3 linked regions of the Homo sapiens genome follow. The protein of the gene in region 2 interacts with the protein of the main gene of each other region in a pairwise test. Each region holds a gene or a part of one and is shown on either strand. Other genes may lie near its edges. The genes, in order: FBXO38, ABL2 and ZMAT1.

Region 1 (3,656 bases), on a different chromosome or scaffold from region 2:
TGTCATGCTGGGAATAATTTTGCAAATTCTTCTGTCTAGGGAACTTGGCAATTTATATCTCACTGTTATATTTAAATGCCTACTAAACCAGAGAATCCTGATTGAGATAAATGACGTCAGTCAACTCAGAATCCACTTCTGTGTATGTCCTTTATTAAGTACTGACTGCATTATAGAACTGTGAATGTGTAGTAACATATACCCTATTCAAATGAGACTGCTGCCCAGTCTTTAAGAGAGAATGCATTTTCTTGTCTTCTAGGAGCCTTTGATAACATTGCTTTTTTCTCATGGCATACCCTCCCCCATCTCTAGTTATGAAATCTCACTCGGCCATCTGCGTGGCATAAGTGTTTGTCTCCTTTTTGGGAAGGCAAACTCCTTGAGGGAAGGATCATGTGTTGTGTTTTTATTTGCACCCAGCATATTTTAAGTTTTGAGACACTTGACAATATGATGAACTGACTCTTTTGAGGCCAGGCTTACACACTGATTACAAAGAGGCATTTAAAATTTCCTTTAAACCCTCTTTTGGCATTAAGCACAGAACCTTATATACAATATACTCTTAATAATGATAATGACACTAACAGTAGTTATATGATGGCTTACTATATACTAGCACATGTTTTAGAGTTTCACATATATTAAATATCACAATAATCCTGGGTATATCATTATTATTCTAATTTTACAGATGAAGAAACTAAGACATCGAAGTCAAATAATCTGCTACAGGTCAGACAGCCAGAAATTTAATCAGGCAGTCTGAACCAGAGACTGTGCTCTTAAACCACAGGTAACTTTTAATAAGTATAAAAACCTGTTGAATAACAACTCCCTATATCATACATAACCTGTAAAAACTAAAATATCATTACTGTAGGTTGGGCAAGTGAATGAATGCCAAATCCAAAAGGCTAAAGACTAACAAGAAAAAGAAAAAGAAAAACACCACAATATGTGTATCATCGGAAAGAAGCAAAGCTCGTTACCTGCTGCATTGGGCGTAGGTATATGATGCGGTTTCTCTCGGGTGGCATTCTTAGTATCTGGTCTAGTACCTGATCCATGTTCAGTTTCTTGCACTGTGCATAGTCAAATCGGTTTACAATTGGTGCATTTTCTACCTTTAAATGTTTTAGTACCCTGCACCTGGTAGCTACAAAATGAAAACAATGGTAAGCTCCGTACATATCATCTTTGGAGAGATGGCCTAATTTTTGTTGGCACAAAATACTGCAGTAACAAACATCTTTAACAGAGGTCAAATAATATCATAGAGTACAAATCACAGTTAACAAAAAAATTTGAAAATGTGGTTCTGTTCAATTCAAAAGAAGGTAGAAGGGGCATTAAAGTGCCTTTTTCTAAGATTTTACTGTTAAGAAAACCAAGTCTCAGAAAATGACTTGCCCAGACAGAAACTGTTTAGGAAATATTTATTTAAAAAATGAGTAACTATTATACATTTTTATAGTCAATAGTCAGACCTGAAATAATTCACCTATGTTACCTTACATTCACTCTCAGGAATGAGCAGAGTTGGATTTTAATTCCTGTCACAAACGTAAAAGTAGAACCTTGAAAAAAAAGACCCAGAAACACATTTGGATACTTTGGTCTAAAGCTATTCAGTCCAATCTAGTAGCCATGTGGTTAGTGGTTACCATAATACTGAACAGTGTAGACACAGAACATTAAAGTTCTATTGAAATGCTCATCTAAAACATGATTAGTTTTTCTGTTTGACATATAAAACATGAAGTCAGAAAAAAGTAATTTTGATATAATAAACACATTTAACTGAACTAGTATATCAACTTCAGAAAAATATTTCCTTCTCTTTTTTTAATCTCCAATTTCAACCTGGTCCAATTTTCACTGCAGATTTCAACCAGGTCCAACTTGAGAGAGATCAAATGGAAAAGATTATAAAACCACAGGCTCATTTGTCTGATCTTAACATTTCACAGACATCTGTAACATCCTTGACCCAAATGTCATCATCGTCTTGTGCAATCTAATGTAACTAACTTGACATTTAAACACTGAGAGAGACTCCCGCCTCTCACGTTCATTTTCTCCTTTTGTGACTTGGTGGAAAGAAGGGGAACTGTTGTTGAGGACAGCAACAGAGGAAAGGAGAGCGCTAGATGACAGTAAGGATCCAGTGGTTCTTAGCTATAAAATCCGACATGACTAAGGTCAGTTCTAATCTCATTTAATCATCTCCGCTGTCATTAACTTAGCCACTACCTACAGACTAAGCTAAGATCCTCTCACCACGATAAGCTGAGCCAAACAATTTGGTTTAAAGGGGAGAAGGTTGGGCCTGAGGCCGTGTGATCCATCATTAGGTTAGAGAAGGTACAGGAGAAATCATCAAAGTAAAAAGAAGAAAACTAGTCAGATTCTCGGAGAGCTCAGAGTAGAGAAAGGAATGGAACGAGATGCCGACTGGCAGAGTCTGAAGATTGAGTTTTACATTCTCAGAGCTCAAAGGGTGTAGGTACTGACAGAATGAAAGTTCTTCCAGTGCTACTGTAAGGCTAGGGTGAGTACCCCTACTGTTACAATCTCTGAGCTTTTGAAGAGCCTGTGTTCTCCACTGTAAAAGGAAACTCCAATAGGAGATAGTAATTTAAGATGTTTTAGGACCAAAGACCACATTGGCTGGGATAGAGAAAAGTACTACTACTTCAGAGTAAACAATAGAGTCTGGGGTCCCCAAGGTCTGAACTTTTGTAGAATTCAGAGGAGAAGTAGTGCTTGAATCTCAGTTTCATCTCTCCTTTCTTGGGTTCTCCTCAGTTTATGACAATATGTTTGGTAAATACCTTTTAATGGGATTTCTTTGTTTACTACTAATATGGTAGGAGATATAAAACAAAATAGACCTCAATATTTTTTGGCAATACAGGTTGACGAACCTTTATCTGAAATGCTTGGGACCAGAAGTGTTTTAGATTTCAGATTTTTCTTCAAATTTTGGAGTATTTGCATTATATACTTACCCTAATCAAAAAAATCTGAAATCTGAAATGCTGCTCCAATGAATATTTCCTTTGAGCATCATGTTAGTGCTCAGAAAGTTTTGAATTTTTAAGCACTTGGGCTTTCTGATTTTTAGATTAGAGATGCTCAACGTGCACTAACATAATACAAATTAACATCACTAGGCATTACTAGAGGTCAGACCCTGTACTGTGTGTGTGGGTGTGTGCATATGTCATGTATATATATACATATACAGGCATTTCTCATTTTATTGCACTTTATTGTGCTTCGCAGACATTACACTGTTTACACAAGGTCTGTGGCAACCATGAATTGAGCATCTACTGGTGCCATTTTTTTAGTAAGCACGTGCTCCCTTTGAGTCTTTGGGTTACACTTTAATAATTCTTGCAGTATTTCAAACTTTTTCATTATTATTTTATCCATTATGGTGGTCTATGATCAATGATCTCTGATGTTACTGTTTTAATTGTGGGGTGCCACAAACTGCACCAATATAAGTGAACTTAATAAATGTTGTGTGTGTCCTGACTGCTCTCCCAACAGGCTGTTCCCCTGTCTCTCTCCCTTTCCTCAGGTCTCCCTACTCCCTGAGATACAATGATGTCGAAATTAGGCCAATTAATAACACTACA
Region 2 (3,656 bases):
AAACTACTGGCCTCAAGTGATCTTCCCATCTTAGCCTTCCAAAGTGCTGGGATTATAGGTGTGAGCCACCATGCCTGGCCAGAGAGCTCTCTTTATTTTGCCAGCACTGTATCCAAGATCCTTTTTCACCATCTAGTGGCTTTTTTTTTTTTTCCTTCTTGAGACAGGCTGGCTCCATCGCCCAGGCTGGAATGCAGTGATGCGATCTTAGCTTACTGCACCCTCAGCCTCCTGGGCTCAAGCCATCCTCCCACCTCAGCCTCCTGAGTAGCTGGGATTACGGGAATATGCCACCATGCCCGGCTAAGTGTTTTTTTATGGTTTTTTTTTGTTTGTTTTGTTTTTTGTTTTTTTTTTGTAGACTGGGTTTCGCCATGTTGCCCCGGCTGGTCCTGAACTCTTGAGCTCAGGAGATACACCCACCTTGGCCTCCCAAAGTGCTAGGATTACAGGCGTGAGCCACCACACCTGGCCTAGTGGCTGAATTTTTAAAATAGTTTTCTGCATTAGTAAATAACTTAGTCTTGTAGAAAAGCATCTATTGCTCACCTATCCCAGTGTACTTATAAATAGGGACCCATTTTATAAAGCCTGCTTTATTCCGCATCTTGATGAGTGCTCTACAGTGACATATCATTAGTGGCTTTCTAAGGTGTTAGTGATTATCAGAAGATACTACCATATTTGTCAGCACTTACTTAACTCTGCCTATAACACAAAACCAAGAATAGAGTGTTCATGACCATTTTCCTCACCATCTGAATGGAATCACATTAGGGTTCTCTTTCCCACAGAGATCTTGCAGCTCGTAACTGCCTAGTGGGAGAAAACCATGTGGTAAAAGTGGCTGACTTTGGCTTAAGTAGATTGATGACTGGAGACACTTATACTGCTCATGCTGGAGCCAAATTTCCTATTAAGTGGACAGCACCAGAGAGTCTTGCCTACAATACCTTCTCAATTAAATCTGACGTCTGGGGTAAGGTTGAAAGGGACTTTTTTCTGTGTCATTTTATTTTTTTTTTTATAAATGCCTTGATTCTTTAGAGCTTCTCTTACGATGTTCAGTATCCTCTACCTTTACCTGCCATTCTTCTTCAGTTATTCAGCAAGCATTTGTTAAATACCTCCTATCTGCCAGGACTGTGTTAAGAACTTTGCATAAACAGAAGTATAGGCCTGGTGTGGTGGCTCACGTTTGTAATTACAGCACTTTGGGCCGAGATGGGTGGATCACTTGAGGTCAAGAGTTCGAGACCAGCCTGGCCAACATGGTGAACTCCCATCTCTACTAACTACAAAAATTAGCCAGGCGTGGTGGCATGCGCCAGTAATCCCAGCTATTCAAGAGGCTGAAGGCTGAGGCAGGGGAGTTGCTTGAGCCTGGAGGGCAGAGGTTGCAGTGAGCCAAGATGGCGCCACTGCACTCCAGCCTGGGCAATAGAGCGAGACTCTGTCTAAAAAGAAAAAAAAAAAAAAAAGTATAAAGAAGAAAGTTTAGGGCCAGGCACAGTGGCTCATGCCTGTAATCCCAGCACTTTGGGAGGCCGAGGCAGGTGGACAACCTGAGGTCAGGAGTTTGAGACCAGCCTGACCAACATGGAAAAACCCTGTGTCTACTAAAAATACAAAATTAGCTGGGTGTGGTGATGCATGCCTGTAATCCCAGCTACTTGGGAGGCTGAGGTAGGAGAATCACTTGAACCCGGGAGGTGGAGGTTGCGGTGAGCTGAGATCACACCATTGTACTCCAGCCTGGGCAACAAGAACAAAACTCTGTCTCAAACAAAAAAAAAAAAGAAAGAAGAAAGTTTTAAAAAAGAAGTCCCTGCCTTCAGAGAGCTCACAGTCTAGATCTCTTATTGCATTGGAGTGCTAATGATCCTCCCTCTGTAAAGCATCCTATTTCCACATTAGGTTTTTTGTTTTTATTTTTGAGACAGAGCCTTGCTCTGTTGTCCAGGCTGGAGTGCAGTGGCACAATCTCAGCTCACTGCAACCTCCCATCTCCCGGGTTCAAGCGATTCTCCTGCCTCAGCCTCCAGAGTTGCTGGGACTACAGGCATGCATCACCATGCCCGGCTAATTTTTGTCATAGTAGTAGAGATGAGGTTTTGCCATGTTGGCCAGGCTGGTCTCGAACTCCTGACCTCAAATGATCCACCTGCCTTGGCCTCCCAAAGTGTTGGGATTACAGGCATGAGCCACTGTGCTCAGCCTCACATTAGGTTTTATCACTCATTTGCAGAGTACTGTGACACAGAGCTTTTTTTTTTTTCGAGGGAAGTGTGATGAGGTTTCCTCTAGAATTTGTCCTAATTGATCTGGTTTCTACTGCTCTGAGAGGTAATATGATTTGGTTGAAGCTTAGTAGACTGAACAATCTGGAAATTTGGATTGTGGACCAATAGAAATAGTCATAGGATTCTAAGTCATTTTTTACTGGAAATCTCAAACTCAAATAACTGAGACAAAATCAAACAAATTTTTTTCTGCTCTGAATTTTATCTGATTTTAAATGAATCCATTTTTATTTTACTCCTCTTGTATTAGCTGACTTTAAAACTGTTATGCTTCTTAGATACAGTGGTTCTCCTTTATCCTCAGGAGAATACATTCTAAGACCCCCCCCTTGGATGCCTGAAACCAAGGATAGTGTCAAGCCCTGGATATATAATCTTTTTTTGATCTGATAACCGAGAGGTCTTCTCAGTGACTAAGGGGTGGGTAGCATCTACGGTGTGGATATGTTGAGTAAAAGGATGATTTATGTGCGAGGCGGGAAGGAGAAGCATGGCTTGAGAGTTCATCATGCAACTCAAGGCAGCATGCAATTTAAAACTTTAGAATTGTTTATTTCTGGAATTTTCTATTTAATATTTTTGGACCTTGGTTGACTGTGAGTAGCTGAAACTGTGGGAAGTGAAACCATGGATAAGGGGTGACTACTGTATATCAAAAACTTTTCTAAGAATAGTTGGATTATGCCTCAGACTTCTTAAATGGTCATAGTTTATTTTCCCTCATTACAGTAAAGGAAATCTAAATAAAAATTGGGAAATTTAAATAAAACTGTCTTGAGATTATCTGCAGCATTCCTGTTGCAAATATTTTAGAAGGACAAATCATGCTGTAAGAATTGATAAAAGAGTATATTATATATTAATGTTGTTGTAACAGTGTGTGAATGTTACCTAAAATATGAAAGAGAATCACCTAATTATGTAAAATAAATAATCGGAGAAGAAACACTAAGTGCTTTTTTTAATTCCTTATGCAGCTTTTGGGGTATTGTTGTGGGAAATTGCTACCTATGGAATGTCACCATATCCAGGTATTGACCTGTCTCAGGTCTATGACCTACTAGAAAAAGGATATCGAATGGAACAGCCTGAGGGATGCCCCCCTAAGGTTTATGAACTTATGAGAGCATGTGAGTATTTTTGCATGTTTTAATTTTGAAGGCATAAGCTAGCAGTTCAGAATAGTTAACAAAATTAGAAACATTTCTCCTCTCAGTGTTGTTAGATTGAATCCAGCCTCATGACATTTAAAGAGTTTATCATTGATCAGCCAGTTGTCATATCATATACCATTGAATCTTATTGGAATCCTAAGCATAGTTGTTATGGCCCAAATATTGACCCAGTTTCTCA
Region 3 (3,656 bases), on a different chromosome or scaffold from region 2:
GTTAAAATATATCCCTCTAGGACATAGTTAGATAGAAATTCTATTGGATCCCAAACAGATCTAATATATACTTATATTTTTTATTTTAAGTTTCACCTTCTTAGAGTCAAACAACCATTTCCAGGCTTTCAAGATCTTTTTGGATCTTCTAGAATCTGCCACCAGGAGGCTCATGGAAGAGGGGTTTCCACTGAGAACAAATTTATAAAATGGGTGTTGTTTTCCAGAGGCTACTGTACACTGCCACATTCTCCTCAGGTTGCATTTCCTCTAAATTTGACATGAATTTGATGATGTCCACTTTCTAAAAGTCATACCTAAGACTTGGAGAGGTTAAACAGTTTGCCCAAAGTCACACAGTTGATAAGTGTCAAAGCCAGGATTCAAATCTAAGTCTGCCCAAGATTTCCCTGAGCTCACTCTTAGAAAGGCTAGGCCTTTTTTTTTTTTTCCTGAGATGGAATCTTGCTATGTCATCCAGGCTGGAGTGCAGTGGTGTGATCTTGGCTCACTGCAACCTCTGCCTCCGGGGTTCAAGTGATTCTTCTGCCTCAGCCTCCCAAGTAGCTGGACTACAGGCGTGCACCACCATGCCCGACTAATTTTTGTATTTTTAGTAGAGACGGGATTTCATTATGTTGGCCAGGCTGGTCTTAAACTTCTGACCTCAGGTGATCCGCCTGCCTTGGCCTCCCAAAGTGCTGGGATTACAGGCAAGGCTAATCTTAAAAAGAGACTTGATCTCCAGGCTTGACATATGTAAGAAACATATGTCTGATTCACAAGAGATGCTAAATGTTTCTTTCGATCCACCCGACCCCCAACCCCCACTATTTGAGACATGATTTTTGGACTCCCAGAAAAAAATGACCAATAGCCAATTCTGGAAGTCGAGAGGAAACTGGTGACAATACAGATGTCTTTCAGCCTGTTTCAGGGTGACAGCTTAGAGGAAAGGCCAGCCTCAGGGAGCAGATGTTCAATTAGAGGATAGGTGAGCAGATAATGTTGACTGTGAGGAAGATGACTGGGACAGGAACTAATGCTTACTGAGAACTCACTACCTGCCAGGAATAAAACTGTTCTGGCATAGAATTGGGACTTAGGAGCTGATTCTAGTAGAAATGGGAACCAAGGGATAGCTGAAGAAACTTGGGGGCATCTTCCTCTCTTCTCTTCTTTATACTCTCACCATGTCTTTTCTCTTCCTTAACTGATTAGAATATGAAATAAATCTATTTTTATTGGTTGGTTGTTAAGTGTGGGTTTATACTGATTCTTAATTCCAATAGTAAGAGTTGTAAAAAGCATTAGGATGAGAGAGACTGCATTAGTTTTCACCCTGCTATTAACTAGCTGTGTGACTAAGAACATATCACAGCCTTTCAGATTTCTGTTTCTACCTGACTTTATATGGGTTGATGGTGATCAATGAAAAAATATATTTTAGATTGGAATATATACGGAAGCAAAATTTTGGTGGGGTACTTACAGAGGACCCAAACACCTAGCTGCTTCCAAATACGAAGCACAGAAGATGATTTAAAGTTTTAAGCAGCTATACAGTTAACACAAACCTTTAAGGGCCTAAAAAATCAAAGGGTCCCAATATTTCTTCTCTTAATCTTCCATTATCTTTATTTTCTTGTCTATGTCCTAACCCTAAAGCTGGTTCTCTCCAAAATATCTCTTTGTAAAGATCTATGAGGCATTTCTATTACCAAGTGTAATATTTTAATAATTGCAACTAGAGTTAAAAAGAAATTTTTCTGCAAAATTAGTATTTTGGTTATGATTTAGGTACAACAGTTGAGTTTTCCCCAATGATAAATGTACAAAATTCATGGCAGATGGTCTTTTATCTTTCAATCTAATTAAGAAAGAAATTAGGAGAGCTAGGGTTAAAAATATAAACAGATTACACATTAGAATATCAAATGACAACATACTAAATATTGTGAAGTATGATTTCAAGTCTCATCTGGAAAAAATACATGTCTTTGAAAATGGTATGGTAAATACTTCCTGGTTAATTTTAGGCATATTTTTTCAATATTTCTAGCCTAGAATTTTTCAACTGTTCTTCATTCCCTGGTACATTTGAATTTTTTTATGCTACTATAAACTTGGAAAAGAGATAAGGATAGAGGAGCAAGTTTTTTTTTGTTTTTTGAGATGAAGTCTCACTCTGCTGCCCAGGCTGGAGTGCAGTGGTGAGATCTTGGCTCACTGCAACCTCTGCCTCCCGAGTTCAAGTGATTCTCCTGCCTCAGCCTCCCAAGTAGCCAGGATTACAGGCATGTACCACTGTGCCCGGCTAATTTTTGTAATTTTAGTAGAGATGGGGTTTCACCATGTTGGCCAGGCTGGTCTCGAACTCTTGACCACAGGTGATCCACTCATCTCGGCCTCCCAAAGTGCTGGGATTACAGGCGTGAGCCACCGTGCCCGGCCAAGGAGCCTACTTTAGTGAAACTTGGTATTGAGATCTTAATGACACAAAGGCATGCTCTCAAGTATGAAGTGGAATATACCATCTTTAAAATATACAGGAATTTCTGATGCTGATATCATTTATTTCCATTTTAACATGAAACAAAAGCAATGGGGAATAAGAAAGTACTATCAAAACCTAGGTTCAAAATGGGAAGATAACCTATATCTGATAATGAAGTAAGGGTTTAAAAATAATAAGATGTGGAAAAGATAAGACCAATGTTTACTAGATGGTCCCATTTATACTCAGGGTATAAGAGGGTAAAATTGCTTTGCAATGCTGTGCTTTGTGGTAATAAGAAACTATTCAAGTTGCCAACTGTTAACAAATTAAGCATGACTTTTAAATATATATTACTTTCCATAAATACATCAGAAAGTTCTTCAGAGTGGAGAAATATGGTCATATAACAAAACTATGACCTATACGTACAGAGTTTCAATTTGGGATGATGAAAAAGTTCTGGAGATGGACAGTGGTGAAGCTTGCTTGGCAATGTAAATGTAGTTAATGCCACTGAATTTCACACTTAAAATGGCAAAGTTTATGGTGTGCATATTTTACAATAAAACATAAAATAAAATATTGAAAAAAATAAAAGATAAAAGCATCTGAATCACTGCATGAAGGACAGCTGCCCTGCAGAGTCAACCTGCTGCTCAGAGGAAACTGCATGAGCAAGTGATGGTTGTTTTGCTACCATGACATAAACAATCCACTTCTGAATAACATTTATGATGGTTATTTGAAATGAAATGGTAGTTTTGTGACAAATTATAAATGGGATCTGATCAGAGAGCTCATATATTCCAGTAATGTATTTGATTACATTTAAGTGTGGCTTCAGCATTTGGTGGGAGAAATGAATAAACTCCAATTTTCTATAAATAAGAGTGTTTTACCTCTTCATTTCCCTCTTACAAGAAATGTTTTCATGACCTAAGAAAATAAATCTTTCATAATAATTTGTAATGGGGAGAAAAACTATGACCTACAGTACTGGGATGTTGGAAAAAAATAAATAAGATTCTGAGTTGGTCAAACAGATTCAAATCCCATCTTTACCCACAACTATATAGCCTTCAGCAAATTATGTAACCACTATGGACCGTTTTTTATTTCACCTAAAAGGTACAGAAATACAATGTGTAATTTTTAA

The links.
Region 1: the proteins of ABL2 (region 2) and FBXO38 interact in a two-hybrid assay, tested with the Homo sapiens proteins (one large-scale study listed by BioGRID and IntAct).
Region 3: the proteins of ABL2 (region 2) and ZMAT1 interact in a two-hybrid assay, tested with the Homo sapiens proteins (one large-scale study listed by BioGRID).

Annotation. Positions count from the first base shown.
Region 1 is NC_000005.10:148,435,838-148,439,493, reverse strand, and holds part of FBXO38 (F-box only protein 38), read right to left. Parts: intron 1,163-3,656; coding exon 996-1,162; intron 1-995. UniProt on the Homo sapiens protein: Substrate recognition component of a SCF (SKP1-CUL1-F-box protein) E3 ubiquitin-protein ligase complex which mediates the ubiquitination and subsequent proteasomal degradation of PDCD1/PD-1, thereby regulating T-cells-mediated immunity.
Region 2 is NC_000001.11:179,114,655-179,118,310, reverse strand, and holds part of ABL2 (tyrosine-protein kinase ABL2), read left to right. Parts: intron 1-794; coding exon 795-979; intron 980-3,280; coding exon 3,281-3,433; intron 3,434-3,656. UniProt on the Homo sapiens protein: Non-receptor tyrosine-protein kinase that plays an ABL1-overlapping role in key processes linked to cell growth and survival such as cytoskeleton remodeling in response to extracellular stimuli, cell motility and adhesion and receptor endocytosis.
Region 3 is NC_000023.11:101,921,958-101,925,613, forward strand, and holds part of ZMAT1 (zinc finger matrin-type protein 1), read right to left. Parts: intron 1-3,656.